Linked DNA regions of Homo sapiens: regions 1, 2, 3, 4 and 5 are each linked to region 6. The links come from fine-mapping of genetic effects on gene expression. A gene starts in region 6. Each other region holds a variant in brackets. All regions are shown on one strand. Distances are between the middles of the regions. Region 1 overlaps SLCO6A1 (solute carrier organic anion transporter family member 6A1). Region 2 overlaps SLCO4C1 (solute carrier organic anion transporter family member 4C1). Region 3 holds the start of SLCO6A1 (solute carrier organic anion transporter family member 6A1). Region 4 overlaps SLCO6A1 (solute carrier organic anion transporter family member 6A1). Region 5 overlaps SLCO4C1 (solute carrier organic anion transporter family member 4C1). Region 6 holds the start of SLCO4C1 (solute carrier organic anion transporter family member 4C1).

Region 1 (5,079 bases), 170 kb before region 6:
CAGAACAGAGGCCTCAGAAATAACACTACACATCTACAACCATCTGATCTTTGACAAACCTGACAAAAACAAGCAACGGGGAAAGGATTCCCTATTTAATAAATGGTGCTGGGAAAACTGGTTAGCAATATGTAGAAAGCTGAAACTGGATCCTTTCCTTACACCGTATACAAAAATTAACTCAAGATGGATTAAAGACTTAAATGTAAGACCTAAAACCATAAAAACCCTAGAAGAAAACGAAGTATCTGCTGTCTTCAAGAGACTCACGTAATACATAAGGACTCACACAAACTTAAAGTAAAAGGGTAGAAGAAGATATTCCATGCAAATGGTAACTAAAAGTGAGCAGGAGTAGCTATTCTTATATCAGACAAAACAGACTTTAAAGTAACAACAGTTAAAAAAGACAAAGAGGGATATTATAAAATGATAAAAAGTCTAGTTCAACAGGAAAATGTCACAATCCTAAATATATATGTACTTAATGCTGGAGCTCCTAAATTTTTAAAATAATTACTACTCTATGTAAGAAATGAGATAGATGACAACACAATAATAGTGGGGACTTCAGTACTCCACTGACAGCACTAGATAGGTCATCAAGACAGAAAGTCAACAAAGAAACAATGGACTTAAAATATACCCTAGAACAAATGGACTTAACAGATATTTACAGAACATTCTACCCCAAAACTGCAGGATATATTCTTTTCCTCAGCACATGGAACATTCTCCAAGATAGACTGTATGATAGGCCACAAAATATGTCTCGATAAATTTAAGACAATGGAAAGCATATCAAGTATCCTCTCAGACCACAGTGGAATAAAATTGGAAATCTACTCCAAAAGGAAACCTCAAAACCATGCAAATACATGGAAATTAAACAACCTGCTCCTGAATTATTATTGGATCAATAATGAAATCAGTATGGAAATTAAGCATTTCTTTGAACTGAACGATGATAGTGACACAAACCTATCAAAACCCCTAGGATACAGCAAAAGCAATGCTAAAAGGACAGTTTATAGCATTAAATGCCTACATCAAGAAGTCTGAAAGAGCATGATTAGACCATCTAAGGTCACACCTCAAGGAACTGGAGAAACAAGAATGAACCAAACACAAAACCAGCAGAAGGAAAGAAATAACAAAGATCAGAGCAGAACTAAATGAAATTGAAACCAAAAATACAAAAGATAAATGAAACACAACACTGGTTCTTTGAAAAGATAAACAAAATATATAGACCATTAGTGAGATTAACCAGGAAAGAAAGAAAGGTGATTCAAACAAGCTCAATTAGAAATGAAATGGGAGATATTACAACTGATACCACACAAATGCAAAAGAACATTCAATGCCACTGATACGGTTTGGCTGTGTCCCTACACAAATCTCACCTTCAATTGTAATAACCCCCACATGATAAGGGCAGGGCCAAGTGGAAATAAATGAATCGTGGGGGCAGTTTCCCTCATACTGTACTCGTATGTAGTGAATAAGTCTCATGATATTTGATGGTTTTATAAATGGGAGGTCCCCTGCACAAGATCTCTTGCCTGCCACCAGTTTTGTTATTTTTTTTTTTAAAGAGATTCTCACTCTGTCACCCAGGCTCTAGTGCAGTGGTATAATCACAGCTTACTAAAGCCTCAATTCCTGGACTCAGGTGATCCTCCCACCTCTGGAGTAGCTAGGACTACAGGCATGCATCCTTATACCAGGATAATGTTTTTGTATTTTTGGTAAAGACGAGGTTTACAAAGAAATCAGAACTTCATATACATCATATGTAAAAATCACAATATACAAAAATCAACTCAAGATGGATTAAAGACTTAAATGTAAAACCCAAAGCTACAAAAACTCTAGAAGAAAACCTAGGCTGTACCATTCAGGAATAGGCATGGGCAAAGATTTCATGATGAAGACACCAAAACAATTGCAACAAAAACAAAAATTGACGATTGAGATCTGATTAAACTAAAGAGCTTCTGCACAGCCAAAGAAACTATCAACAGAGTAAACAGACAACCTACAGAATGGGAGAAAATTTTAACAAACATGCATCTGACTAAGGTCTAATATCCAGCATCTATAAGGAATATAAATTTACAAGAATAAAAACAAACAACTCCATTAAAAAGTAGGCAAAGGACATGAACAGACACTTCTCAAAAGAAGACATACATGTGGTCCACAATCATATGAAAAAAGTCTCAACATCACTAATCATTAGAGAAATGCAAATCAAAACC[G/A]CAATGAGGTACTATTTCACATAAGTCACAATGGCTATTAAGAAGTCAAAAAATTACAGAAGCTGGTGAGGCTGTGGAGAAAAGGAACTCTTTTACACTCTTGGTGGGAGTATAAATTAGTTCAACCATTGTGGAAGACAGTGCGGTAATTCCTCAAAGACCTAGAGACTGAAATACCATTCAGCCTAGCAATCCTATTACTGGGTATATACCAAAGATAAACATCATCCAGTTATAAAGACACATGCACACATATGATCATTGCAGCATTATTCACAATAGCAAAGACATGGAATTGATCTAAATGCCCATCAATGATAGACTGGACAAAGAAAATGTGGTAAATATACACCAGGGAATACTATGCAGCCATAAAAAGGAACAAGATCATGTCCTTTGGAGGGATATGAATGGAGCCGGAGGCCATTATCCTTAGTAAACTAATGCAGGAATAGAAAACCAAATACCGTATATTTTCTCTTATAAATGGGAGCTAAATGATGAGAACACATAGATACATAGATAGGAAAAATAGCTGTGGCCTACTGGAGGGCAGAGGGTGGGGGGAGGAAAAGGATCAGAAAAAGCATCTAATTAATACTAGGCTTAATACCTGGTTGATGAAATAATCTGTAAAACAAACCCCTGACACACATTTACTTATTTAACAAACCTCCACATCCTGCGCTTATACCCATGAACTTAAAATAAAAGTTAAAAAGGAAAAAGAGAAGCCCAATACTAAATAATGTGAATATTCTGAGTTTCTGGTGGGGGAGGAATGGGTTTCTGCTGTATAGTAGAGACAGGCACAACTTTGTTTGAAATCCAGGGGATTTACTTGATTCTTAGTATTCACATTGTCCAGTAGTTCTCTTTAATGAATAACTGCCTCAACTCATTAAAGAAAATACCACTAAGGCTCAGATCTTATAGGAATGATAGTTTGGGTCACCTCACCAGGTGAAGTATTCTTTCCAACCAAGGTGCTAACTGAGGGTAAGGTATTCATATGATAGATGGTGAATGAAGGAAGATGTGATGGTAAACTCAGACCTTGTCACTACTAATGATGCAGGGACAGTAGCAACTAGGTTTTGTGTTAGTTTTCTTCTAATTTTTATTCTTCTAGGTTATATGATGATCCCTGGTAATGGTAACTGTTTTAGACATAATGCGTTTCTCTCAAGGTACTTGAGACAAAGAATTTGAGATAAATACATGAATGCACACTATTAATTTGAGAAATGATACTAGGAAGCATGATAGGGTAGTGGGGAAATAAGCATGGGAAGTTAAAGAAGACAATAAAGTGTTCATTATATTGAGCAATTTACTGCTTGGGGCAACTAGGACTCAATCCCACTGGAGAACTCTGGCGGACAGTGTAAGATATGAGTTATCCCAGATATATATATATATATATCCACTAACTCCTAGAAATTGTTGGTCAAGCGATGCTCCTGGGGTTATTATTAAGCCCTAGGTATTTCTGACCTGCTCTCTGAGAACTGGGCCAAGCATAAAGTTCCTGCTATTCAAAGTTAATCATTTGTTATATATGGGAGTGATGAATGTCTAGCTGACATAATACAAATGGGACACTAACAACATCTTCTACAACAGTGTTTTAGTTTTCAGTTGCAAATATATTTGAATTATTATAACCCAATAATTGTATAATAGCTAACAGGATTTGGTGTAGTTATCTCAAGAATTTTCTCACCCAAGATTTTTTTTTTCCAGCAAAGGGCACTAGCAGATTCTGAGGTACAAAAGTGATGGATTGTGTTGGATATCATCAGTTTGCTACTATAGTTCCACTCCCTACTTTTCTCCACTCTGCTCTGTACCTAAAGCGGTTGACCTATTATAGACAACATCAATGGTCTCCTTTACCATCTAGCTTAGTTTTAGGCTTGGCTTGTGAAGAGCACTGGCAAGAGATCTGAGAGCATCAGGAAACTTAAATCTGGATATTTATTCTTTCCTTTCCTTTCCTGATGAATCTCAATGGCTTGGTGGTGTCTCTTTAATAAAGGCTACATTTGTCTTATGACCCTCTGATACAACCACCTGTAGAGTTCACTTAACTTCTGTCTCCTCTTGCCTCTTCAGGCACCTTTTCAGGTGGTAATGGCTCTCTTCTGTTGCAAGACCCAGGATACCATCTCTTCCCATACAGATTTCTTTAAACTTTCCTTATGTCACTTAAACAGTCCCTTTTATTAAATTACTCAAAGAGAATGTATTATTAGGACTCAGTATGTATATTAACCTTCTGTATTTTTTTGAATTTGCTTCTTATTTCCTGTCTTATTTTTATATTGGTTCATTATTTCTTATAGATTTATAAAAATTCTTCACTTATTATGGATATTAATTGTTTGCTAGACCTATGACAAATAATTTCTCCCAATCTGTCCTTAAACTTTGTATATGGTATATTATAGAAACTTTAAAAGTTTTTTATCATCAAATATGTCAATATTTTTCTTTCCGTAAACTTTGAATGTTCTTTCTTGCGTAAGAAGTTCTGTTTTTTTATTTCGATAGTTTTTGGGGAACAGGTGTTTTTTTTTGTTACCTGAATAAGTTCTTTAGTGGTTATTTCTGAGATTTTGGTGCACCCACCACCTGAGAAGTGTACACTGTACGCAATGTGTAGTCTTTTATCCCTCACCCCCCATCCTACCCTTCCCTGCAAGTCCCCAAAGTCCATTACATTTCTTCTTATGCCTTTACATGCTCATAGCTTAGCTCCCACTAATGAGTGAGAACATGCGCAGTTCCATCCAGGTTGCTGCAAATGCCA
Region 2 (5,079 bases), 57 kb after region 6:
TGTCCTGTTCTTCATCTTAGAGGAAAGGCTTTCAGGTATTCACCATTGAGTATGATGTTAGCTGTGGATTTGTTATATTTGGGCTCTATTATATTGAGGTACACTCCTTCTATACATAATTTATTGATGACTTTTATGGAAAATATGTCTTGTTAATGAATACCCTTTCTCTTTACATTTATTAAAATTAATAAAGACTAGTGACTCTTTGGTGTTATTTGCAATATTTTAGGTCAGATAACATTTTTCTTCTTTTATAATCCCAGGAAGATTAAACCATTTATAAGCTCTTACAAATGCATTATTTTGCGTTTACAACATTTACTTTAATATAGGAATGCTAAACTCTTATAAATGTGAACTTGCTCAAAGAGTGAATATACTATACCACCTTTTTTGGTCTCATATATATTTAATATTTCCAGGTGTGTTAATCACAGACAACGGTCCCTAGCCTTGGGAATACAATTTATGGTCCTTCGATTATTAGGTATGCCATTTTTCTTTATTCATTGCTAACTGTTGGCTATTTTGGTTCATTAGTGTTATTTATTTTTTAATTTATGGCCTGTGGCAAAAAAAATTATAGTGGAAGGCTACATCATTCTTGTTGAAGGAAGCCATTTTCCAATGTTTCAGATATAGGATTATTTACTTATTGCATACTTTTAACCTACCTGACTGGTTACCTGTTCCAACTATGTTGCTAATAAAATCTTAAAAGGTGTGTCATGTCTATTTCAAATATAAAATATGATCATCAACACATAATTTCTTTTCTCTCTGCTTTTGTCTCTATTCGTGACACTATTGTGTTACACTAGCAATTAAAAATGATGTTAAAATGTTTCAACAGCAACTGTGGTATGGATATTGTGACTAGTTAAGAATTATTGGAAGAAAGAATTTGTACCAGAGAATTTTATAAAGTTCCAGGTACAGGACAAATTACAAGAAAGACAGACATAGTAAACATAATATTAAGATTATTTATTAAAGCAAAAACAAAAAGTTGGGGCATTAGAGATCACCTCGTCCAACTTGCCAATTTTTTCAGATGAGTAAATTAAGTCCCTGAGAAGTGCAGGGTTTTGCCCATAGTTACACAACTAGTGATAGAAATGAAAGTAGGAAAATGATTCCTAACTCTGAGTCTAGTACTCTGACTTGTATCATGCTACAGGTCATGAAAGAACAGACTGGATGTAGCTGAAATCTTTGTCTAAAAATTACAACCTCAAATAATTGGAAGTTTCTTAACTATATGGAAGTTGAGTACCTCATGGCCTCTTGGAAATGGTGGCGGGTATATAAGATAGTGATATTCCTAGATATGGTATTATAAGACTATATATTTGTATATACATACACTAATACATACAGAGGCCCATGTTAGTTTATATACACATGCACACCCACATAGATACAACATATACTATAGTTCAGCAGATTTATTTGTGCATCATGAATAATTTATTTTGATTTTTAACAAGTATAATAGCTAATTTCAAAGGCATATTTATTCATTATATTAGAAAAGTGGTGAATTAAAATATTAACTTTTAGCCCAATATATATTGGATATTTCTATTGAAATACTTTTTTGAATTGATTAGAAATACATAGTAATTACATATAATTATTTTAGAATATTGTATCTGCTTTATATTTCTTTGACTTGTACATGAATTAATTTGCATGTGGACAGATGAATACTTATTTTTATTTCTATAAAATATATGTATGATCATGTATAAAAAGATCTGTAATTCTAAACTGTAATCTTTACTGTTGTATATTTCACCCATAATTCTTTTAGGGACAATTCCTGGACCAATTATATTTGGTTTCACAATAGACAGCACATGTATTCTTTGGGATATAAATGATTGTGGAATTAAAGGAGCTTGCTGGATTTATGATAACATCAAGATGGCCCATATGCTAGTAGCCATAAGTAAGTGGTGACTTCTTGATAATTTTAGAGTAAACTAAGGATGTAAAAAAAAAAAAATCTCATTGTTGGTTACTTAGGGTCACAGGTATTTTGAAATGTTCAGTCCACATTGTTGAACCATCCAGTAGTCTTCCTGAAGCAGAGAACATTTATCACAGCATGTTATGAAAGGCTTTGAACAGATGGAGTTTGCAAGGCTCAGTACTAAATACAAGAAAATAAAATTCTAGCTTTCATTACATCATACAGTATATACTTTTCTTTTAATAACTTATCTCAAACATTTTTGGAAAGTATACTCGAAAGCTAAAAGAGAATTCTGAGAAACTCCCTGGAATGATTGTCATCTAGGTATCTAGGTGTTGCAAACACATATGGCTCAGGCAGGGAAGTATCCTTTGTCTCCAAGGCACGTTGTAAGGAACATTTTTATAGTTTAGAAGGTTAGCTGTGATGTTTAATTCTTTTTGCCTTTTGCAGTTTGTAATGTCTTGGTTAAGCAATGAATGAAATTTAAGGCAAGATTAAGATTAAGTAAAACAATGTATCTAGTTTACACTAGTAAAATAAAAGTTGAAATTTAAAAATTTAAAATTTGAATAATAACCTAGGAAACTAAAATAGCTTAGAGAAATCCTGAATGTATGTATACATATGTATCTAATATAATGTGTGATTTTCATTGT[G/A]ATTATTTTGACACAGGTTGATCAAGATAGGCTATTATTACTCTTACATGCATGTAAATCCAGAGTATGCTTTCTGAGTTGATAGAGATAGAGTAATAGAATATTTGCTGAAGAAATAATCTATAAATTCTTATAGCACTTGGGGAGTAAGTATTGACAAGTATAGGCAAAATTAATCATCCCATTACTTTACCTGTTGTTAAAAACCATTTTTTATTCAATTTTTAAAATTATATATTTTTACCACAATCATGGCTACATACAATGTTTTTATGTTTAAAATTTATTTAATTCATTTTGTTTGTACTTTTTGGTCAAAGATATAGATAGAACAAATCATTCATTTTCCTAGTCAATGATGAATGGGAATCCCCCCACAAAATATATAAAACCTTAAAATTTTCAGAATGAAACAAATAAAAAAAGTTGTAAGTTGTACCTATGTAACTAATCATTCTATAGTCTAGTAATGCCTAGATGAATGAGCATTCCTGTTTTTCAAATACATGTTTTTAAACAAAATATTAATAATCAACAAAAAGAAACCAGCTACTGCAAGAACTATACTGTGAGACCACGTTGAATTTATTAGGCTGGCAATTATTAAATGCTTATACTGTGGTTGGAACTAGTTTCTCTTCATATAACTGAACTTAAAATCAGATTTACTTGGAAATAAATCAAAGTTTGTGAAGTGAATCTTAATGTTTATTTTTAGCTGATAAGAAGAGTAGATTTGGTTAAGTATTGAGTGTGATATCCTCCCACAGAGGCTTTAAGAACTCCAAAACCTTTTTAATTTTTAGAATTATTTTCTGTCCTGGAAGGGAATGTTCTTCAATTTATTCAGGTTCAAGAATGTTACAAACTACTTTCCCTCATTATTGACTTTTGGTTGCTTGCAATTTTTTATAGATATCATATTGTGTTAACGAATTTATTTATTTATTTTTGAGACGGGGTTTCTGTCTGTCACCCAGGCTGGAGTGCAGTGGTGTGATCTCAGCTCACTGCAACCTCCACCTCTAGGGGTGAAGCGATCCTCTCACGTCAGCATCCCAAGTAGCTGGGACTGCAGGCTGTACCATCCATCATACCTGAATATATTTTGCACTTTTTTTTTTTGGTAGAGACAGGGTTTCCTATGGTGCCCAGCCTGGTCTCGAACTCTTGGACTCAAGACATCCACCTCTCTCAGCTTCCCAAAGTACTGGGATTATGGGCTTGTGTTAACAAATCTAGATGGTGGCCCAATTCCTATTTAGTTCTATACAACACTTATTTTACAAGAATGCACAAGCATAACCAAGAATAAGTTAATTATTGTGCTCTATTACAGCTTAGAAAGAAAATAAGTACTAGTGACTTGAATTGTATACAAATGTTTTTTCTTTCCCCTTAATGTTTCAAAAATTTTAAACATAGAACTATAATGGTTATGTAATTATTCTCTTTAAAAATGTTCTATTCATGAAGATTTTTCTCAGTGATAATTTTTATCATAATTAAAAACAAAAGCACATGATTAATTTTTTTTTTCACTTAGGTGTTACTTGTAAAGTTATCACCATGTTCTTCAATGGATTTGCAATCTTTTTGTATAAACCACCTCCATCAGCCACAGATGTGTCATTTCATAAAGAGAATGCAGTTGTGACTAATGTTTTAGCAGAACAGGATCTCAACAAAATAGTAAAAGAAGGGTGAAATGGGAAAAGAGAAGACTGTTTTACACCTGGAAAATTTACCTCGATTTTTAAGAACACACATTGCCATGGCAGGATTATCTATCCAATATGGACAATCATATTTACAAAATTGATGTTTTTATAATCAAATGTATTTTTTTACTTATGTAGTTTTTGTTTTATGCAAGAAACAGACCTGTGCCTTCAAAGCCCACGTAAAGCCTCAAAACACAGCACACACACACACGAGCACACACACACACACACACACGAACACACACACACACACACACACGCACACATACACACTTATTTCCTATTCCCATTGTCTAGGTATGAAATCCTCAAGCAATAACAAGAAAAAAGGCCCACAATTAGAAAAATTTACATTTAAAAAAAATGTTGTTTCTATCCCCATTACAACTTGTTTAATTTTAATTTTCATTGTCAATATTTTGAGCTTAGAACATTTATGGTATAAAAATTTAAACTAATCAAAGTTGTGTGATGATTTCCGGGAATTATTATTGAAAGCCTATGAATTTAAAACCAGGTTTACCATGTAATTTGTTTTTAAATTTATGTATACTAGCCTGGCCTTTCTCCAAGCAAATTATTGAACTATTAGAATATGTTAGTTATCATCCTTGTGTCTTAGTATATAGTGAATACAGAAACATCAGCATTGTATACACATATTTTCACTTTAACTCAAGAATTCCAGGAGGTAATTTGTTGATATTACAAT
Region 3 (5,079 bases), 200 kb before region 6:
GAGAAAACAGTTCTATATCTCTTAATAGTTGAGGTCATCTTATATTAAGCTACATTATTATAATTTGCACCATCATGCGGTTTATCTACTTCATAGGCTCATTTGCTAAAAGGATTATATGAATTATCATCAATATGTTACTTTAGTGAGTAGTTCTTCCTACATGTTTAGAGCATTTAGCGGAAATAGATATTACATAGAGAATATAAAAGAGCACCTCATAAACATTCATTGTTTAATTTAAGCTGGTTTCTTGAATATCTTAAGCACTTGGATTGCTGAACTCATCAGGGAATGCTTTAGTTGGTAGCTATATTTCATTGCCTGTATCGAAATTTTATACTATAATTACTTGCTAACTTTTAGGAAACATGTAATTAATATGCATACATTTTAAGATTCAAAGATAATTTTTTTCACATTTAATATTTCTGGAATTGAGATAGTTTTATAACTCTGATCGACATCATCTATAAAAAGATTTTTAAAATCAGTGATCTGTCTCAGGAAAATACATACAACCATGTTAATTTCAGTATGGTCAGAGCAAAAATTGAAAAACAATCCAATACCCATCAATATAAAAGAAAGTGGTTAAATAAATTATAGTAAATCCATACCATGAAATTCTATCATGCATGGTACTATCATAAAGGTAGCCAAAATGAATTAAGTGTGATGTTTTCTAAGGTTAAATGAGCAAGGTAAACAAATATCCACAATTTCTACTTAAATACTTAGAGTACAATTTTTGTAGCTGGATGACAGTGTCCTACATTATGTAATAAAAATATGCTGATCAAAGAATGTTGAAGGTATGTTTGTCAGTGTTTCCATTCCACCCTTAGCTTTCAGCAGGTCCTGTATGCTTGCACCACAGGTAGGGTTTCCCTCTGCTCTCTTGACTCACCTATATTGGTGGAGTGCTGTTTTTTCACTCATGCAAAACTCCTCATCGAGGCAGAAGCTAGGTTGTCCCTGGTCCAGCCTCAATTTTGGACATGCCCTGAATGCCTGAACCTCAAGTTCGGGCTTTGCCTTGTTTCAGTGGGGTTCTTGGGAAGAAATGAAGTTCCTGCTCCTCTCTTTTTGGCAAACTGTTTTATTTCTATCCCTCTCTCTGGTGGCAGTCAATCTTAAGGTAGGCCATAGACAGGATGGTTTGCTGCTCCTCCTTCAGTGGGTTTTTTCTTCTGTAACAGATAACCTTTGTCACAGACTGGAGGGCATGAGAGTTTCCTGCCTCAATCCCAGAGGCAAAACTGCTTTTGCTTTGGATAGCAGAAGGGTCAGTGGAGGTAGGAGGGAAAGTATTCCTTCTTCTTTCTCAGGGACAGTCTACCACGACCAAATCTTTTCCCTTAAACAAAGATCTGGTAAACGGGTATAGACTCCCCTTATTTCTTAGGCTTCTAGGGTTTCTAAACTGTTAAGCTTCCCTTGGCCTTTAAGAATTCATTAAAATTTCAAGTGTTTCTATCTTCCTTTATGACTGCTTTTTCTTCTTTCTGTGCTCTTTGAAAAGTAAAATGGTTTGTGTGTCCCATCCTTTTTCTGAAGGGCTTATTGTCCTTTAGAATCAATTTGCCTAGTTTCTTTACAGCAGCCATAGCTATAGAAATGTAGCTCTCTGATAAAAAAAGTATTTTTTCATACTATCCAGCTTTGTTGTTGTTGTTATTATTGGAGTGGGGGTTACATTTTATTTGGCTTTCTACATTCTGGGTAGAAGTAAAATTCCCAGTACCATTCATTTTTAATGGAGTTGTCTTTTCCGCTCTGCACCCAAGCAGTACCTATTCTGGTTTTGAAGCACAAGAATAAGAGCCCACCACTCCCCACTGTCTTTCCTACCTCCTAGGATTCCTGTGGATTTTTTTTTTTTTTTACATTTATTATCATGAAGCAGTGTAGAGTCGAAATCAGGCTTCAGGTCAGTGGTTCTTAATTCTTCTTTCCCTGGTCTACCAGGCCAGCACTATTGGAGCAGCACAAAATCTTGTTGAAGAGCTAAATTGTTTTTGGCAACACAATGTCTAATCCATAGGAGAGAAGATAGTGCCATCTCTCCTGGAAAGTCACCCTCCACATATACATGGCCTAAAGAGCTTATATATCAGCCTAAGAAAAGAAAACCAATAAGAAGTTGCATTTTCATTAAAAAAAGAAAGCCACGTTTCATATCCTACTACTCTTCGCTTACATTCTTTCTCTTCAATAAAGTTTTTATACCTGAAAAAATAATCCTCTGGTTCTCGTGCCCTCATTTAAGGTGGAAAATGATAATCTTTTCTGTTCTTGAGTTGGGATAGAGTTTGTAGGGCAATAATTTCTATGTGTAAAACACTTCACTTAAGGACATTCAGTCGGACATTGATTTCTGATTTTTGTGCGTCCAAATCTTTTACTGTGGTGAAACTGTTTTTGTTGTTGTTGTTGTTGTTGTTGTT[T/GTTT]TAATGTCTTCTGCTCTCTCCTGGTCCTTCAACAATTTTCAGGTTGTTTCTAGTGAGATTTTTCAGTTGGAAAGCCACCATAATAAAGTAAGTCTGGGGAAACTGGGGACGGACAGTTCCACTTTTTTTTTTTTTCCATGCTTCTGGTGCTCTTTGTCTGTGTTAGCAGTTATCAAAATCTAGTTTTAGCTTTTTTTTTTCCTTCCGCACGTGGAAGAAAAGAAGGAAAACAGCTTTGGAAGTTCTCAACCGTCAACCCCCGGGAGGACGTTTGCCTCCTGCCCTAGGAGAAACGTTCGCTCTGGAGGCTTGGGCGGCAAGAGCCCCTTGTGGCCACCGAGTCCTCCGACGCCCTCGCCAGGCTGGCCTTTGGGTTGGCCCAGGCAGGACGGGCAGCCGAGAGCACTCGGGCCGCGTCGCCAGGAGCCGCCCAGGGTGAGCCATGTTCGTAGGCGTCGCCCGGCACTCTGGGAGCCAGGATGAAGTCTCAAGGGGAGTAGAGCCGCTGGAGGCCGCGCGGGCCCAGCCTGCTAAGGACAGGAGGGCCAAGGGAACCCCGAAGTCCTCGAAGCCCGGGAAAAAACACCGGTATCTGAGACTACTTCCAGAGGCCTTGATAAGGTTCGGCGGTTTCCGAAAAAGGAAAAAAGCCAAGTCCTCAGTTTCCAAGAAGCCGGGAGAAGTGGATGACAGTTTGGAGCAGCCCTGTGGTTTGGGCTGCTTAGTCAGCACCTGCTGTGAGTGTTGCAATAACATTCGCTGCTTCATGATTTTCTACTGCATCCTGCTCATATGTCAAGGTGAGCCTGAAGGAGGCGGTTTGTTGTGGCGAGGGCAGCTGGGGCCGCACTGGCGGAGGCGGGAGAGGGAGTATGGCGGAGGACGCCCTGGGGTGGCCCAGCATGCCCTGGGGTGGCCCAGCCTGAGGCTGCTTTCTGACTTCTCAAGGCGTTGTCGGATCAAAGTTTAGCCACCCAGTGGGTTTACCTTGCCCGCTGCCTAGACAGAGAAGATTTATCAAGGAAGGGGAATTGCCATGGAGAAAGAGTAAGGCACGCAGAGCCGGCTGTGCGGGAGACCAGAGTTTTTTTATTGCTCAAATCAGTCTCTCCAGCATTCTGGGATGGGATCAGAGTTTTTAAAGATAATTTGGCTGGCAGGGGCTCGGGAACTGGGGAGTGCTGATTGGTCAGGTTGGTCAGGGAATCATAGTGTGGTTGAAGTCAGGTTTTCTTGCCATCTTCTGTTCCTGGGTGGGATGGCAGAACTAGTTGACCCAGATTACTTGTCTGGGTGGTGTCAGCTCAACCATCCAGTGAAGGGTCTGCAAAATATCTCAAGCACCGAGCTTCGGTTTTACAATAATGATGTTTTCCCCAGGAGCAATTTGCGGAGGTTCAGACTCTTGGCGCCAGAGGCTGCATGACCCCTAACCTTAATTTCTAATCTTGTAGATAATTTGTTAGTCCTGCAAAGGCAGATTAGTCCCCAGGCAACAAGGGGATCTTTTCAGAAAAGAGCTATTATCAATTTTGTTTCAGAGTCAAACTGTGAAATGAATTCCTTCCCAAAGTTAGTTCGGCCTAAGCCCAGGAATGAACAAGGAGTTTAAAGGTTAGAAGCAAGAAGGAGTGGATTAGGTCCAATCTGTTTCACTGTCATAATTTCCTCATTTATAATTTTTGCAAAGGTAGTTTCAAAAACAGGTTAACCGGCTGGCACGAACTTGGGTGCCTCACCTCCTCCAGAACCTGACTGGCACAGTCCATCCTACACATTGTGGGTGATGAGGGCCTGGCTTCCAGATAGCCAGCTGCAGAGAGGATATTGTTGAGTCATTTATCGTTGTTTGGTCACCAACTCTGAGAAGTTCTGGGTTGAATCACCTGGAGTTTAAAATAAAGTTGAAAACGGTGTCTATGATCATTAAATGGTTTCTGATCCTGCTCACAAATTTGCGACATTCTGGCTCAGCCACTCTCTATTGGATCTTTTTTCCTCATCTATGAATTTATACAAGAGAATCTAAACTTGAGGTTGTTATTTTTGCCCACATATTTTGAAGAAGGTGAATTTGAACACTTTAGACCTGGCATGCCTCTCTACTTGACCACAGCTCTCACCTCCCCTATTACATCAAGATTCTTTACTAGCCTCTTTTCAATGATGGCATTGGAATTTGACAAACCTGTTCTCTTTTTTGCTCTAAGATGCTAGGTCTAAATAAGTGCAATCAAAAGGCTGTATGTTGTAAGACCCATACTAGAAAAACTAATAAATTGTCATCGAGTTTGTCTTGAGATTATCAAAGAAGTTTCTTAGAAGAACAAGCATTTGAACTATGCCTTTATAGTAGGTACAGTTTTGAAAGCCAGAATGAAATTAAAGAGTATTTGTTGAATAGGGAAGCGAGTTAATGAATCGTGTTTTGTTTTAGAAAGGCTTGTTTCACAATAGTGAATGACAAGTTTGGCTGGATAATGGTTTCATCTAGGCACCATAAGGGGGTAATTATATTTATATTATCCATCATGTCTCCTTAGTGACTGAGGTATAGAAGACACTCAGTAAATATGTATTCGATGCATGAATGAATTTTAAAAGAAAGGAAAAGACAGATTATGCCTAG
Region 4 (5,079 bases), 76 kb before region 6:
TCCCAGCTACTCAGGAGGCTGAGGCCAGAGAATCACTTGAGCCCAGCAGTTCAGGTTGCAGTAAGCTATGTTAGGGGTACCCCTGCCTGAGCAATAAAGGGAGGTCCTGTTTCAAGAAAAAGAAAAATAGGCCAAGCATGGTGGTGGCTCCTGTCTGTAATCCCAGTACTTTGGGATTTGAAGGCAAGGAGATCGCCTGAGCTCACAAGTTTGAGAGAGCAACATGGCAAAACCCCGTCTCTACAAAAACTATAAAAATTAGACAGGTGTGGTGGCACATGCTGAAGTGGGAGGATCGCTTGAGCCGGGAAGGTCAAGGCTGCAGTAAGCCAAGATCGTGCCACTGCACTCCAGCCTGGGTGACAGAGTGAGACCCTGTCTCAAAAGAAAAAAAAAAAAGAATTAATTTAAAAAAATTGAAAAAGAATTAATTAAATATTGCATCCAATATTCAAGTACATTTGTATAATGCTTGTAATGTTGTAATGTATTAACTTTCTGCAGCTTGAAACATGAAAATGAAAAAACCTGCAAAATTAATGAACTTTTCTGTAATATTTGTTTTATTTGAAAAATGATGAATATTTCAAAAAGAGCAAAGCTGCATGAAATGACTTAGCTCTGGTTCCTATTGATAGCTAAGTTTTGAAAGTCAGAATTTATATTTCATGTTTCAGAATTAACACAGTCTATGAGGTAATAGCACACCTTGCACTTGGGAAGGGGGTAATATGTCTAAGAAATCTAAAACATATTATAAACATTTAAAAATCTCCTTTAAGTAACTTAATATAATTTTATGGCATTAATTGCATTCTAAAATTGGGAAATTTATACCTTTATAGGTGAAATATGCTTACCTTTCTTTGGTAAATAGCATTTTTGCCTACATTTTTGTTCTAAATACATGGACATATCTGATCATTGCATTTTTTAAATTTAGGTTTTCTTTGCAAACTATGCACTATCATCTTCACTACTATTGCATTTTTCATATACAAACGTCGTCTAAATGAGAACACTGACTTCCCAGATGTAACTGTGAAGAATCCAAAAGTTAAGAAAAAAGAAGAAACTGACTTGTAACTGGATCATCATTGTGTAAGAATTACACATTGTCAATCTATCAATGAAATATTAATATTAATAAAATTTAAAGTAATAATAATGTAATTACATGTTTAACAAATGTGCTTCATATAATTCTATATATTTTATTATATTTTGAGTGCAAATATAATAATATAGTCTGTGTTTAAAATTTTTAAAAATATAAAATACACATTTAATACTTTCAATGAAAGATAATACTTTGATTGAAAGAGATTGAGTGAAAATAGGAAAATACACCTAGGTTAATTTTAACTGACGTGATAGCCCATTAGTTGTTGGCCTTTGCTATTTGGAATTAATTAGGTTCCCTTTTTAGCTTATTCTTAGTACTTTTGATTTGGGCAGTAGATATTTATTTCTCCATTTTTCTAAATAAAAGTATATTTGCCACTTAAGTTCATATAATTAAAGTTGAAATTAAAGTTATATTTATTTTCCAAAAAGGACTATTTTAAACCTTTTAAAAATTAACATTTTATTTATCTATGATTTGACATACAGAGGTTTCCTCAGAAAATTTCTTTGGTTAATTGACCAGTTTATAATAAATATTTTGATGTTTCGTTAATCTTAGTAAACATAAAATTCAATATACTCATATACTTCTACCTGTTTTTTGTTACCTTTTTCCTTTTTTTTTTTACCTTCACTTGGATTTTATTGATAAAGACTAGCTGATAATCTGAGTTGAAACCCACTTTTCTGCTTGCTTTTACACTTCATTTTATAATTAATCGTAATTATTTAATGTGAAGAAATATTTAAATGTAGAAAATGTGTCAACTATTTATAGATTTTTTAAGCTAAAATGCATTTGTATAGAGATTTTGTTATAATTTTTTATACATTATTGTACATCAATCGAAATTAGATTTTCCAAATATTGTATAAAAATCAGATTGTTGTGGAACAAGGTTCTCTACAATGTTTCTTTGTTTTCTTGGGAGAAGTGATAATAGCTGACAAAATTTCTCCTCTGTTATTAACATTAGTCAATGACCCTATGTGGATGGGTAGACATTGCCCTATTCATGGTCGTG[G/T]CTAGCAGAAGAAAATGTGAAGCAGGGAATATTCATATCTTACTACACATTTTTATTTCCTGTTGTATATTTTATTTCAACATGCATTTTAAAAACCTATAAACTAGTCTTCATGTAAAACTCTACTTGATTGCTTGACTCTTCTCTGTTTGAACCAGCAGGATTGCAGATCATTTGAGGATCAGAGTGTGAAAACGAGTTTCTCTTTTACAGATTCTCCAAGATTTGTTTCTGTGCCCAACTTTCAGAAGAGGAAAATCACACATTATGTTTACATAAGTAGCAAAAATATATTTATGGTGATCTGCATTTTCATAATAAAGTGTCCTATTGTGAAACATTTCTGATAATGTTTTTAATGTATGTAGAATTTTTAGGATTTACTGGGAGAATTAAAGTTTAATAATTTTAGATTATTTACATTTCTTCTTAATATTCTGCTGTCTAGAAATATTAAAAATTATACAACTAGGAAATAAAGTAAAATAATAACATTCAAAGCCACTTTGAACATGCTTGTACAGTGTGTTTGTGGGGTGTTTGTGTGTGTGTGTGTGTGTGTATAGATACATATTACCTGTTTATGTTTCTCTTGCTTTCTTTTTTTTCAGAAAATAAATCAGTGAAGGTATAATAAAAATTATGGATTGGGAAGTACTGTTGAAACTTTAAATTTAAATATAGATTTTTGCTATTACAGAGTACGTGTTTCTGTATCACAAACTAATTCATGGAGGATTGATAAACAGGGAAGTAATGTAAATATAACTCAGAAGTTCTATTGGTTAATTCCAATTTAATACCTCTTTAAGTAATCAGGGGAAGTTTTTCACTATTATAGAGAAGATCTTAGCAATAAATTAAATCTTAAAAAATGCTAAAAATCCCACAGAAGTGCCTTCCTTTGGAGTCAATTTTGAATGAGTTAATGCCATCAAGGTTCATTATACTTTTGAGAGTATTAATGTACCTAAGGATACTGTAAGTGCAGGTGAAGAAGCTGCAAAGATACTTCTAAATATTGGAATTCTAACTTTGATGAAACTGGCCTCTTTTTGGAGTTCATATCCTCAAGGACCTACATTTTAAAGGAGGAAGGTGAGCCCCAGCATTTAATACTACAAAGGACTGACTATGGTGGTGGGTAAAAATGCTAGTGGAGGTTTAACTGTGCTAAGGTGTGTTAAGATTCTGATTGTTTTTGTTAGAGCTCTGGTTACAAAGTTGAATATTTTTGAATGGTTTAACCTTAACAATATTTTCTCCATAAGCCTACTCAGTCCTGGTGCTTAATTTTGCCTAAAGGGACACTGTAAATGAATGCATATGGAAATGCTCATATTTTAAAATTGATGATAATTTATTTGTGCTCTTCAAGTTGCACTTGTTCTGAGTTCTTAAAATGATTGCTATAAAAATCTCAGGTTCTTACTCTTTTTCTTTTTGGATTCTTTTTTTATATCAGATTGAAATTTTACTGCTTGTAACATCTAGCAGTTAATCTAGTGTTAAATGTAGTCCAGAAATGCAATATGTAGCTAGGAAAATGTCAATTTGGGGTTTATTAATGGCGTATTTCTCCGTTTTCAGCACTATAAAGAGTTTGCTCCCATTTTTATATTTATTTGGTTCTTTCAGTCTGGCAGACACAGAGAAGTAAAGGTGTGTTCAATTTAATATTTTTTAAAGCACTCTTTATATTTTTAACATTGTCTATATATAATATAGACAATATAATATTTTATTTGGGTATCATATATAGCACAATATGGGTTTTCAAACTCTAATGTGAGACTACTTTCTGAGGATCTGAATATCTGCTATTGAAAGTGCTGGTGATGAATTTATTAATCTATTGTTGACTCTTGATATAGGAGGTTTCTACTAGCTATAAACATTAATTATAGTCCTTCCCTGTTGATTACATATATATATGTAATCAACATATATTACATGTTTCTCTTTGTGTGTATATATATATATATACACATATATATATATATATATACTCTGAAGCAACAAACTCTACTCTCTCTCTCTGTCTCTCTCTCTCTCTCTCTATATATATATATGTACCTTTTATTTTAAGTTCGGGGTACATATGCAGGTTTGTAATATAGGTAAATTGTATGTCATGAGAGTTTGCTGTACAGATTATTTTGTCACCCAGGTAATAAGCATAGTAACCAATAGGTAGTTTTTCCATCCTCACCCTCCTCTCCCCCTCCACCTTCAAGTAGGCCCTGATGTCTGTTGCTCCCCTCTTTGTGTCCATGTGTTCTCATAATTTAGCTTCCACTTGTGAGAACATGTATTTGGTTTTCTGTTCCTGTGTTAGTTAGCTTAGGATAATGGCCTCCAGCTCCATCCATGTTGCTGCAAAGGAGATAATCTCATTCTTTTTATGGCTGTGTAGTATTTTATGGTGTATATGTACCACATTGTCTTCATCCAGTCTACTATTGATGGGCATTCAGGTTGATTTCATATCTTTGTTATTGTGAATAGGGCTGCAATGCACATCTCTGTCCATGTGTTGTTATGGCAGGTTGAATTATATTCCTTTGGATATATACCCAATAATGACATCACTGGGTTAAATGGTAATTCTGTTAGAAGTTCTTTGGGAAATTGCCACATTGCTTTCCACAATGGCAGAACTAATTTACATTCCTACCAGCAGTGTATAAGCATATCTTTTTCTTCACAACCTTGTCAGCATCTACTATTTTTGGCCTTTTTATAATTGCCATCCTTACTGGTATGAGATGGTATCTCATTGTGGTTTTGATTTGCATTTCTCTAATGACAATAGTGTTGAAATTTTAATATTTGCAAGCTATGCATCTGACAAGAGTCTAATATCCAGAATATATAACAAACTTAAACAAATTTGTAAGCAAGAAACAAATAACCTCACTAAAAA
Region 5 (5,079 bases), 41 kb after region 6:
CTCAGTGATACAAAGATTAATACTGTAGGATTTTTGCCTCTAAGCGATTCACATCCTAGGGAGAATTTCACATTATATGCTTTTATTGATTTAAGTTTTTAGAAATGGAAATAACTCCATAATTATGATAAAAATTATCTTATTAGGTTGGTTGCAAACAGACAAGAAGAGAAATTAGAATAAAGCTAGTCCTTGCTAATACTTACCATTATTGTATCTACTTAGAAGTTTATGTTTATTGTAAATAAATAAATAACTTGTTCTCACCTGTAGACATGTTTCTAGCTATAACTGATTCAACCATTTATATTTCTTTGTTTTCCTTTTTTGTTTTGCTTTGAAATTTTAAGCCATAAGTAGGTGGTCAGGCAGGAGGGTGTTGCACAGCAGTGCATTTTATACCTCACAGTGCTGCTTTAATTGTTTCATTACATGTGTTTGAGGCTGTCAAGGAAAGTGGTACGTTAGGTCAAGGACTCCATAATTTTGTATAATATGACATATAGATGATATAAATATAATCTACTTTGCTCAGAAAAGTTTGCCAATGACAATCATCATGATTTGTAGTTGCTGCTAATATATCTGTGATTCTTTTACATTAATGCTGAGTGTTCTAAAGCAGTGTTTAGTTAAGCTCCATCACATTTTTTTCTTTTTTTGTTTTTTTTAGACAGAGAGTCTTGCTCTGTCACCCAGGCTGGAGTGCAGTGGCACAGTCTTGGCTCACGGCAACATCTGCCTCCTGAATTCAAATGATTCTTGTCTCAGCCTCTGGAGTAGCTGGGACTACAGGCGCATGCCACCATGACCAGCTAATTTTTGTATTTTTAGTAGACGTGGGGTTTCGCCCTGTTGGCCAGGTTGGTCTCAAACTTCTGACCTCAAGTGATCTGCCTGGCTCGGCCACCCAAAGTGCTGGGATTACAGGTGTGAGCCACCGCGCCCGGCCAAGCTCCATTACATTTGTTCAACATTTGTTGAATGCTTCCTCTGGCAGATCTTCTTGGCAAAATACCTGTTCTAAAGGAGAGATTGCAAAAGAAAACAGTGAACAAATAGTCAATTAGGTAATGGGAGATTAAAAAAAATTGCTATGGAATTGAAAAGAAGGTGAGCTTTTCAATTTTATTTGATTAGAATCCAGAAGGGCTTCACAGCATAATAGTGAAATGGGGTTTAAAAATCCTTCAAGGATACAAAGAGTTTTGAGAAATAAAGATTTGAGAAGAGAGAAAGGGAGAGGGAATATGCTAAACCAAGGTTATAAATGCTATAAAATGTGAAGGCTAGTTTCAGAGACCAGGTTGAATGGAACTTAGATTATGTGTCTAGAAATAGTAGAAATATATTTTGGAATGTTGAAAGGTAGGTAGAGGTTAAGTTGTGTAGACCTGACTTTCACCCCTATAAACTTCACCCAAACTTATCCCAGTAAACATTTTTTGTATGTTCCTTTTAGAAAAAAAAGGAAGTTCTGGATAGTTTAACACATAGTTTATCACCTTGAGTAACAAAGTACATGTGAATCCATTTAATATTGTCTACCTTAAATAATAGTTACTACCAGGTGTGCTGTCCAGGTGTGTAATCAGAAAGGAAGGCATGTGTGATGGGGTAATTCTGAGGTTCACGTAGGGGTTGGCCATTAAGATATATTAAGATCTGGGATATAGTGTTTAATACACATACATGTTTCTTAGTGATGAGAAAAACTGAAAGTGAATACACATAAATATCACTAAACGTATATGTTTTTACTCATATTTATGTATGTGTGTGTATATAGATATAAATAGAAATAGGAACAGAATTTAATGTCACAAAGTAGGTGTGACATTTTCAGATCATTTTTTTCTCATGGCCCCAAATTCTTAGTTTTAGCTTCTATACACTGAGTATTAAAATGTGTATATTACAAACAGGTCAGTCAAACTAGTCTCATCTAAGAAACACGTATAAAAGAAAAGGTACAGGCATATGTTGAGGATATTGTGGGTTTGCTTCCAGACCACCAAAATAAAGCATATATTGCAATAAGCAACTCAAGTGGATATTTTGGTTTTCCAGTGCATATAAAGGTTATATTTACCCTATACTGTAGTCTATTACATATACAATAACCTTATTTCTAGAAAAGCAATGTACAATGTATATACCTTAATTTAAAAATTATTTATTGCTGAAACATGCTGACAATCATCTGAGCCTTCAGCAAGTTGTAATTTTTTTGCTGGTAGAGAGTCTTGCCTCAGTGTTGATGGCTGCTGACTGACCAGGGTGGTGGTTGCCAAAGGTTGGGGTAGTTGTGGCAGCTTCTTAAAATAAGACAATAATGAGCAGTCAGAACACACACATCATTCATTGATTAAATTTTACTTCTTAAAGGGGCATGGTTCATGGTGTCCTGAAACAATTATTATAGTACATCAAAAATCACTGATCACCATAACAGAAATGATAATGAAAAAGTTTGAAATTTTGCAAGGTTACCAAAATATGAAATAGACATAAACTGATCGTGTACTCTGGGAAAAATGGCACTTGATAGACTTACTGAATACTATCACTATCACTAGGTTGCCACTAACCTTCAGTTTGTAAAAAACACAAGATTTGCAAAGTACAATAAAACAAAGTAAAGTAAAGCTAGGTAAGCCTGTCTATGGAAAGAACAGACTAAGAAGCTCAAGAAATACCTTTTCAGGGAGTGAGAGACAGAAGAGGTTCTGAGGATGTAGGGTTTCTAGTAGAGGGGTGCAAAGAATCTTTGACTTTTGCCATGGTAAGCACAGATGGGTAAAAAGAGATTTTGCATCCATGAATTAATGAATTAGGTTCATTGATATGTTCTTTGAAAGTCCCTGTTTAATATAACAGCATTTCCAAAAAATGTAAGATCAGGGGATATATATATATA[TAA/A]ATAATTTCAACTTTTAGATTCAGGGGGTACATGTGCAGATTTGTTACCTGGGTATATTATATGATGCTGAGGTTTGGGGTATGATTGATTCTGTTACCCAGGTACCAAGCATAGTACTGAATAGTTTTTCTTTTCTTTTTTTTTTTTTGAGATAGAGTCTCCTTTGGTCGCCCAGGCTGGAGTGTAGTGGCACGATCTCAGCTCACTGCAACCTCTGCCTCCTGGGTTCAAGCAATTCTCCTGCCTCAGCCTCCCGAGTAGCTGGGATTATAGGCGTGCCATCACACGCAGCTAAATTTTGTATTTTTAGTAGAGACAGGGTTTCACCATGTTGACCAGGCTGATCTTGAACTCCTGACCTCAGGTGATCCACCCGCCTCGGCCTCCCAAAGTGCTGGGATTACAGGTGCGAGCCACTGTGCCTGGCTAATAGTTTTTCAACACTTGCCCCACTTCTTCTCTTCTCCCTCTTGTATCTGCAGTGTCTATTGTTGCCATCTTTATTCCATAAGTACTCAGTGATTAGCTCCCACTTTTAAGTGAGAGCATGTGGTATTTGGTTTTCTGTGCCTGTGTTAATTTGCTTGAGATAATGGTCAGGATATTTTTCAATAATATTTTAAAGTAATTTATTATTAAATCTTTAATTGGGCACAATACTAAATTCGATTGCATGAATACTGTTTATTTTCCCACTGTTCCCCACTGCTCTTTTGTTGCCTTGACAATCTATAGGAACTTTGAGTCTTATTTTGGTGATCAGTGGTGGTAATGATGATTCATGTTTTACTTAAAACCTCATAGAATATAGAAATACCATAGTGTATACACACAGTATTTTTTTCTGTATCTGATCTTTAGCTAGAATTTTATTGATTATATGAAATAGCATCTTAAAGAGGCATATCAATATTTTGCAATAGTTTTAGGGAAATTTTAGCCTGTTATAGAGGCATAATTATAGAATACTTTGTATTTAAGAAATTAATGTTTGAATTCTACTTGTGGCAAACATAAAGATGTTTATATATGCACATTTATTTTATTATATTTTAAATCTATTAAACATTTCAAAATAGGATATTTTAATATTTTTAAATATGTATACACTAAGAAAATTTAATAAACTTCACAAGCATCTGCCGTTTTTCTACTAATAGCTTTCTAGTTACCTCAAGAAGTAAACCTTTGTAAAATATGTAGACTAATGTGACCACCCCTTGATATTAAGGAATATAAGCTATATTTCTTTGTTAATACTATAATTTGCATCATGCTGTCTTATACTTTGTATGATCTCAGTAATTATTTATCAATAACATGAGAATTATATATTGGGAACTTTAAAAATTGCTGTGTAAAGGCTATTTCTAGAGTTGCAGGGATGGTTTTTCTCTGGTTGTCTTATTTCTGCATCTATGTTATGAGCTCTGTGAGCGGACACTCTGGTGATGGCTTTTGTGAATGTGATCAACCCTTGATATTATCATCATACTTGATAAAGATAAATCTGGCAGCATCTGTGGAATAGATTTGAATAAGATGAGACTGCAGGCAGAGTGGCAGATTACTATCTTGATCACTCTTTCCTTCAGACTCCCTACTGATTTAGTCATTTTTTTCTCTTTAATTTGTTTTCTTCATGACTTTCTTGTTCTCCGCCTACTTTGTATGTCATCATTTTCCAACACAGTGTCGGTTATCTTCTAATACTTACAGAAATCACTCATTTACTGTGTTTGACCCCTGATGCAAGGAAGTTAGCTTCATGGTGGCAGAGGTTTGCTTCTCCTCCTCCCTCCCTTCTTCCCTTCCTTTTCCTTCTTTCCCTTTCCTTATCTCTTTCCCTTCCCTTCCTCCCTTCTTCCCTTCCTTCTTTCCCCGTTTCCCTTCCTTCTCGCTTTTCTCCCTTCCTTCTTCCCTCTCCCTCCCTCTTTCTCCTTTTCTCCTTCACTCCCTCATTCCGTTCCTTCTATCCATTTCTCTCTCTCCCTCAATCTGTCATTTCTAGTTCTAACTCTAGCTCCTTCTTTCTTTTAAATATAATTCTACCACCTTGAGTAGTCTAGCACATAATTGGTGTCCATTGTGTCTTTATTAAATAAGTGGACTCCCAAGACTTCAGTACCCTTCTCATTCCATACACTATATGACTG
Region 6 (5,079 bases):
ACCCACCTTGGCCTCCCAAAGTACTGGGATTACAGGCCTGCACCTCTGCGCCCGGCTGGCCAGTCTAGAGTTTTCTCGATTGTGAGGAAACAGGTAACAGAATGTACCTCTGTCCAAAGTAAGATACATATTTTATATCTGTCTCTCAACCCAGTAAACACAGCATATATAATTGAAACAAAAGTTTCACAAAATAGTATTTATCATATTATGTGCCATGTACTATGTATTATTACTGTCTGTTTCCTATTAAAACATAAGCACCATAAGGGTAGGGGTATTTGCCAGTCTTTGTTCACTTGTGTACCCCCAGAACTTAGAACAATGTTTGGCACCTAGGACACAAGAATTTTTTGTGTCTGTGTTAAGTGAAAGAATGAATGACTAAATTGTACCTACCATGACACAATGGTGTTAAGCTCTTCGAAGTGTTTTTCTTATTTATTCCACAGTTAGACATGTATTATTATTATTATTATTATTATTAAGAGACAGAGTTTCACTCTTTCACCCAGACTGGATTGAAGTGGCACAATCTCGGTTCACTGTACCCTCCACCTTCCGAGTTCAAATGATTCTCCTGCCTCAGCCTCCCAAGTAGCTGGGATTACAGGCCTGCACCACCACACCTGGCTAATTTTTGTATTTTTAGTAAAGACAGTGTTTCACCATGTTGGCCAGGCTAATCTTGAACTCCTGACCTCAGGTAATCCACCCGCCTCAGCCTCCCAAAGTGCTAGGATTACAGGCGTGAGCCACCGCGCCTGGCCCGGTAGAAATTATTTACATGATTGTCATCACTGTATATCTTACATATGCAATATACAGCAGAGAGACAATTTCTGGTCCTTCAGTTTCGGAGAAGGAAAAGCAAAGCAGTGGTTATGCTGTGATGTTCATCCTGGTGGTGATGGGGGTGGGGTGGGGTGGATTTCTTTTTCTAAGGAGGACTGAGGCAGGAAAATAGGGTCTGGAGGCAGGAAACATAAGGCCTATTCACACTTCAGCTGTAACAGGAAATATCCTCTCCATAGGGCGTAGGCCATAAATGACTTTGTAACTTTACTTCATCTTCTCCCTTTACATAGGGCATACCCAAAGTAACCAATGGAATCCTCTAGGGGGTATTTAAACTCCCCAAAATTCTGTAACCGGGCCTTTGAGCCCCTATGCTCGCCCGTTCCCACACTGTGGAGTGTACTTTCATTTTCAATAAACCCCTTCATTCCTTCCTTGCTTTGTTTGTGCGTTTTCTTCAATTCTTTCTTCAAGATGCCAAGAACCTGGACACCTTCTACCAGTAACAGGATGACAGGCAAGAGTCTTATCAAGATGCTCATGAACCAAAGTATACCTCTGACGTCTTGATTCTTGGAGTCCAAGCCTAGACTGCTTTGGTAAGCAGCAAAGGAAGAAAACGCAAGATAGTTTCCTGAACAATCTCCTGATGCAACTGTTTACAGGTTTCATGTCAGCACCCAAGGGGAGCTTATGGCCAGAGACTCCCACAGTCTCTGTGTGTTCCCAGTGCTTGGGCTCAAGGGAGGCGCGCTGCGGGCTGAAGGCTCAGGTCAGAACCGCAGGGGCTTGGGCGGAGGCGGACTCCGGTCGAAGGCTGTGGGGTGAGAACTCTCGCCCCCTCTACTCGGCCGCCGCCGGGTGGCACGCCCACGCCGCGCCTTCCGGTTGGTCCTTGAGGCGACGGGTGAGGCACAGCTGAGCGCCAAAGCCACAGGCTGGGGCGCTAACGCCCCCGCTCAGCGCTCTGCGCTCCAGACAGCTGCGAGCTGGAGTAGGAAGGTTCAGGCGGTGGCGGAGAGTGCGCTGGAGGCTGGAGGGCCAGGAGGCGGGAAGCTTCCCGCACGGGGGCGCTGTCACCTGCCTGTGGGAGGAGCCAGAGAGGGACCTGGCTCTGCTGCTCTGAAGCACCGGAGTCGGGAGAACCCATCCAGACATGAAGAGCGCCAAAGGTATTGAGAACTTGGCTTTTGTCCCCTCCAGCCCAGACATCCTGCGCCGCTTGTCTGCGTCGCCCTCCCAAATCGAAGTCTCTGCCTTGTCCTCTGACCCCCAAAGAGAGAATTCTCAGCCACAGGAGCTTCAGAAGCCCCAGGAGCCCCAGAAGTCACCAGAGCCATCTCTGCCTTCAGCCCCTCCCAATGTCTCCGAAGAGAAGCTCCGGTCACTGTCGCTGTCCGAGTTTGAGGAGGGGTCTTACGGCTGGAGGAACTTCCATCCTCAATGTCTCCAGCGCTGCAACACACCTGGAGGCTTTCTGCTTCACTACTGCCTCTTGGCCGTCACGCAAGGTAAAGTCCAGCGCCCGCTTGAGGCTCGGGCCAGTGGAGAGCGAGGTGGGCACGGCGAGCCAGCCGGGGGAGAGGGCAGGTGCGCGGGGTCCGTGGGACGGTGGACGCGCCCTGCAAGGTGGCCCCGGGTTTGGAACTTGCTTGCGCTCTCACCAAGGTCAACCTACCGGCCCCCAGCCAGCCTTCCAAAGTTCAGCTTCTCCTTTATCACTACAGTTCAAACTTGCAATACAAGCCTTTTTCTCTTTTGTGTTTTACCTCAGTTTAGCGGATTCAAGACTTACAGGGAAGATTACAAGAACCTTCCTTTGGGAAAGGTATACCCTGGGGAGTTTATTTTACATTATAAAGACAAAAATTTACCTAGGCACTCTTTAAAGGTATTTTACTTTTACATTTGTTTCATTGCCTCAGGGGAAGGAGTAATACGTTTGCAGGTGGGAGTGGGATGCCTTACAAGGAAGAAAGCTATGAAAAATCTATCGTATAAATTAGATACAGACATTCATGTTTTGTGAGTGTATTTAGTTTGAGAGTATGTGGTCACCAGAGGAGCCCAGTGAGTAAATTAGCAAAGGCTCCCGACGTTGTTGAGCCTTAATCTTCATTGTGTTACATTAGTTATCCAGCATCTGTTTTGTTCTAGGATCTCTTTTAGGTTCTCTTGGGAGTTACAGATTCAGTTCAGATTTATACCCTCAGGGGCTTGCAATCTAAGCTCAGTTTGGAGGAGTGATATCCTGGAGGGAGAACAGCTCCCTTGAAAGAAGGCACAGGGAAGGTTAAAGCTGCTTCTGGTGTGTTCAATACAGAGGTTGAAGGAAAATAGGAAGTTAACCTGAGTTGACTTTGAGGAAGGGTGGAGAAGAGGTGGAGAGGAGTCAAGAAGGACATGCCGAAGCTTAGCTGAATTGGAATGTAGATATTTTTTGGTCACTTGAGTCATAGTCCGAGAATATTTTCTGTATAATCAGTCAAGGATTAATTGGAAGAAATACAACCTTAGAAATATAGATTTTAGAGGGTTGGAAACAGCTCATTTTTTAAGTTAATAGAAAACTAAGTCAAAGCCTAAGTATACTTTTTGTTCTTATTCTTCCTCTTCAAGGAACCCAGGGCCCCTTGCTTTGCGCATTAGATGCTAAGTAACCATTTATTGATTGCAAGTCCGCTGCAGCTCTTCTACTGAAGGTAGATTTGTGTTGAAGAATTATTTCCCTGTCCACTTTTCTTGTCCCTACCAAAGTTCCCCTCCATTAATGTCTTGATCATAGTTTTACAAAATTGGTAATTGTGAAGCATCTCAGTGTCAAAGGAATGCGAAGATAAAAAAGTTGGACACAAGTAAAAAATGTCTTATCTTGTGTATTATCTTAAAATTCCTCTGAAATTTCTATATTATTCCAAAATATAACATTTTATATTTAATATAAAATATTGCCTAAAATTGTTATCAAATGTAATTGTCACTCCTAGAAAATTTGTCAGGTTTAGTCTGGAGCAGCATCTACCCAGAGGTCCCCAATTTAAGAAGCTTAATCTGAGATAATAGTGACCCAATAGGCTGGGCATGGTGGCTCACGCCTGTAATCCCAGCACTTTGGGAGGCCGAGGCGGGCGGATCAGTTGAGGTCAGAACTTGGATACCAGCCTGGCCAACATGGTGAAACCCGTCTCTACTAAAAATACAAAAAATTATGGCCGGGCGCCGTGGCTCACGCCTGTAATTGCAGCACTTTGGGAGGCTGAGGCAGGCAGATCAACTGAGGTCAGGAGTTCGAGACCAGCCTGGCCAACACGGTGAAACCCCGTCTCTACCAAAAATACAAAAACTAGTTGGGCATTGTGGCGCATGCCTGCAATCCCAGCTACTTGGAGGGCTGAGGTGGGAAAAACACTTGAACCCAGGAGGCGGAGTTTGAAGTGGACCGAGATCGTGTCATTGCACTCCGGCCTAGGCAACAGAGGGAAACTCTGTCTCAAAACAAAACAAAACACCACAAAAATTAGCCGGGTGCGGTGGCACACGCCTGTAGTCCCAGCTATTCAGGAGGCTGAGGCACGAGAATGGCTGGAACCCGGGAGGTGGAGGTTGCAGTGAGCCGAGATGGCGCCACTGCACTCCAGCCTGGTGACAGAGCGAGGCAAGGTCTCAAAAAAAAGTATAATAATAAAAAGTGTGACCCAATAAATTACTAGTTTACGTTTCAGTTTAAGTTTGAATGCCTGAAAACTTTATTGCCATGTTTCTCAAACATGATCCTTAAGATCATTTCCATGGTATATTTAAATATACATTTAATTGGAAAGAAAAACAAAATTTCTCGAATGAGTTTATTTAACCCAGCATTTCTCAAAGACAAACAGGGATTCTCTAAGTACTTAATTTTCTAATGTGCTTCCTATTGTCATTCATTTACAACAGAGAGATGTAGTATGGAGCGTTTCCTGATTTTTTTGTTTTTGTTTTTTTAAGTAGTGTTCTTGGAACTTGTATAGCATAGAATTCACTTTAAGAGTCATTGGATTAATGTGCTATCCTTCCTGAGGAGTTTACAAATTTTTTTTTCAAAGAGAAGTTTTACCATAAAGACAATTCTTTCTATTAACTAATTTTTAATCAGTATGGCAAGTGATAGGGAAGTTGATTTTATTGGATGCGGAAAATTTTGTATTATTAGATAACGTATAAAAATGTCATCCTAAGATACTTTAGGTACTTTATTTTGAAATCCTAAGAATTGTAAATTGGCTTATAGTCTTATGAAAT

What was found.
Region 1: its variant is fine-mapped to the expression of SLCO4C1 in whole blood (INTERVAL, PIP 0.93).
Region 2: its variant is fine-mapped to the expression of SLCO4C1 in whole blood (TOPMed, PIP 0.90).
Region 3: its variant is fine-mapped to the expression of SLCO4C1 in whole blood (INTERVAL, PIP above 0.99).
Region 4: its variant is fine-mapped to the expression of SLCO4C1 in whole blood (TOPMed, PIP above 0.99).
Region 5: its variant is fine-mapped to the expression of SLCO4C1 in monocytes (TOPMed, PIP above 0.99).

The regions. Positions count from the first base shown.
Region 1 is chr5:102,463,926-102,469,004 of GRCh38, reverse strand. The region is part of intron 4 of SLCO6A1 (solute carrier organic anion transporter family member 6A1); the gene reads left to right. Among named protein-coding and RNA genes, the nearest start is that of SLCO6A1, 33 kb to the left of the region's middle. The variant G/A (reference allele first, on the strand shown) is at 2,265.
Region 2 is chr5:102,236,129-102,241,207 of GRCh38, reverse strand. SLCO4C1 (solute carrier organic anion transporter family member 4C1) reads left to right here. Exons shown (of 13, transcript NM_180991.5): 11 at 426-490; 12 at 1,820-1,957; 13 at 4,190-5,079. The coding sequence ends at 4,350. Among named protein-coding and RNA genes, the nearest start is that of SLCO4C1, 58 kb to the left of the region's middle. The variant G/A (reference allele first, on the strand shown) is at 2,644.
Region 3 is chr5:102,496,658-102,501,736 of GRCh38, reverse strand. It overlaps SLCO6A1 (solute carrier organic anion transporter family member 6A1), which reads left to right and starts at 2,736. Exons shown (of 14, transcript NM_173488.5): 1 at 2,736-3,250. The coding sequence starts at 2,893. It overlaps LOC124901035 (a long non-coding RNA gene), which reads right to left and starts at 2,651. Exons shown (of 2, transcript XR_007058892.1): 1 at 911-2,651. RefSeq lists an enhancer at 2,849-3,349. The variant T/GTTT (reference allele first, on the strand shown) is at 2,451.
Region 4 is chr5:102,369,359-102,374,437 of GRCh38, reverse strand. SLCO6A1 (solute carrier organic anion transporter family member 6A1) reads left to right here. Exons shown (of 14, transcript NM_173488.5): 13 at 944-1,101; 14 at 2,315-2,664. The coding sequence ends at 1,086. Among named protein-coding and RNA genes, the nearest start is that of SLCO4C1, 76 kb to the right of the region's middle. The variant G/T (reference allele first, on the strand shown) is at 2,154.
Region 5 is chr5:102,251,797-102,256,875 of GRCh38, reverse strand. The region is part of intron 8 of SLCO4C1 (solute carrier organic anion transporter family member 4C1); the gene reads left to right. Among named protein-coding and RNA genes, the nearest start is that of SLCO4C1, 42 kb to the left of the region's middle. The variant TAA/A (reference allele first, on the strand shown) is at 2,921.
Region 6 is chr5:102,293,138-102,298,216 of GRCh38, reverse strand. SLCO4C1 (solute carrier organic anion transporter family member 4C1) reads left to right here and starts at 1,933. Exons shown (of 13, transcript NM_180991.5): 1 at 1,933-2,309. The coding sequence starts at 1,955. RefSeq lists an enhancer at 1,968-2,167.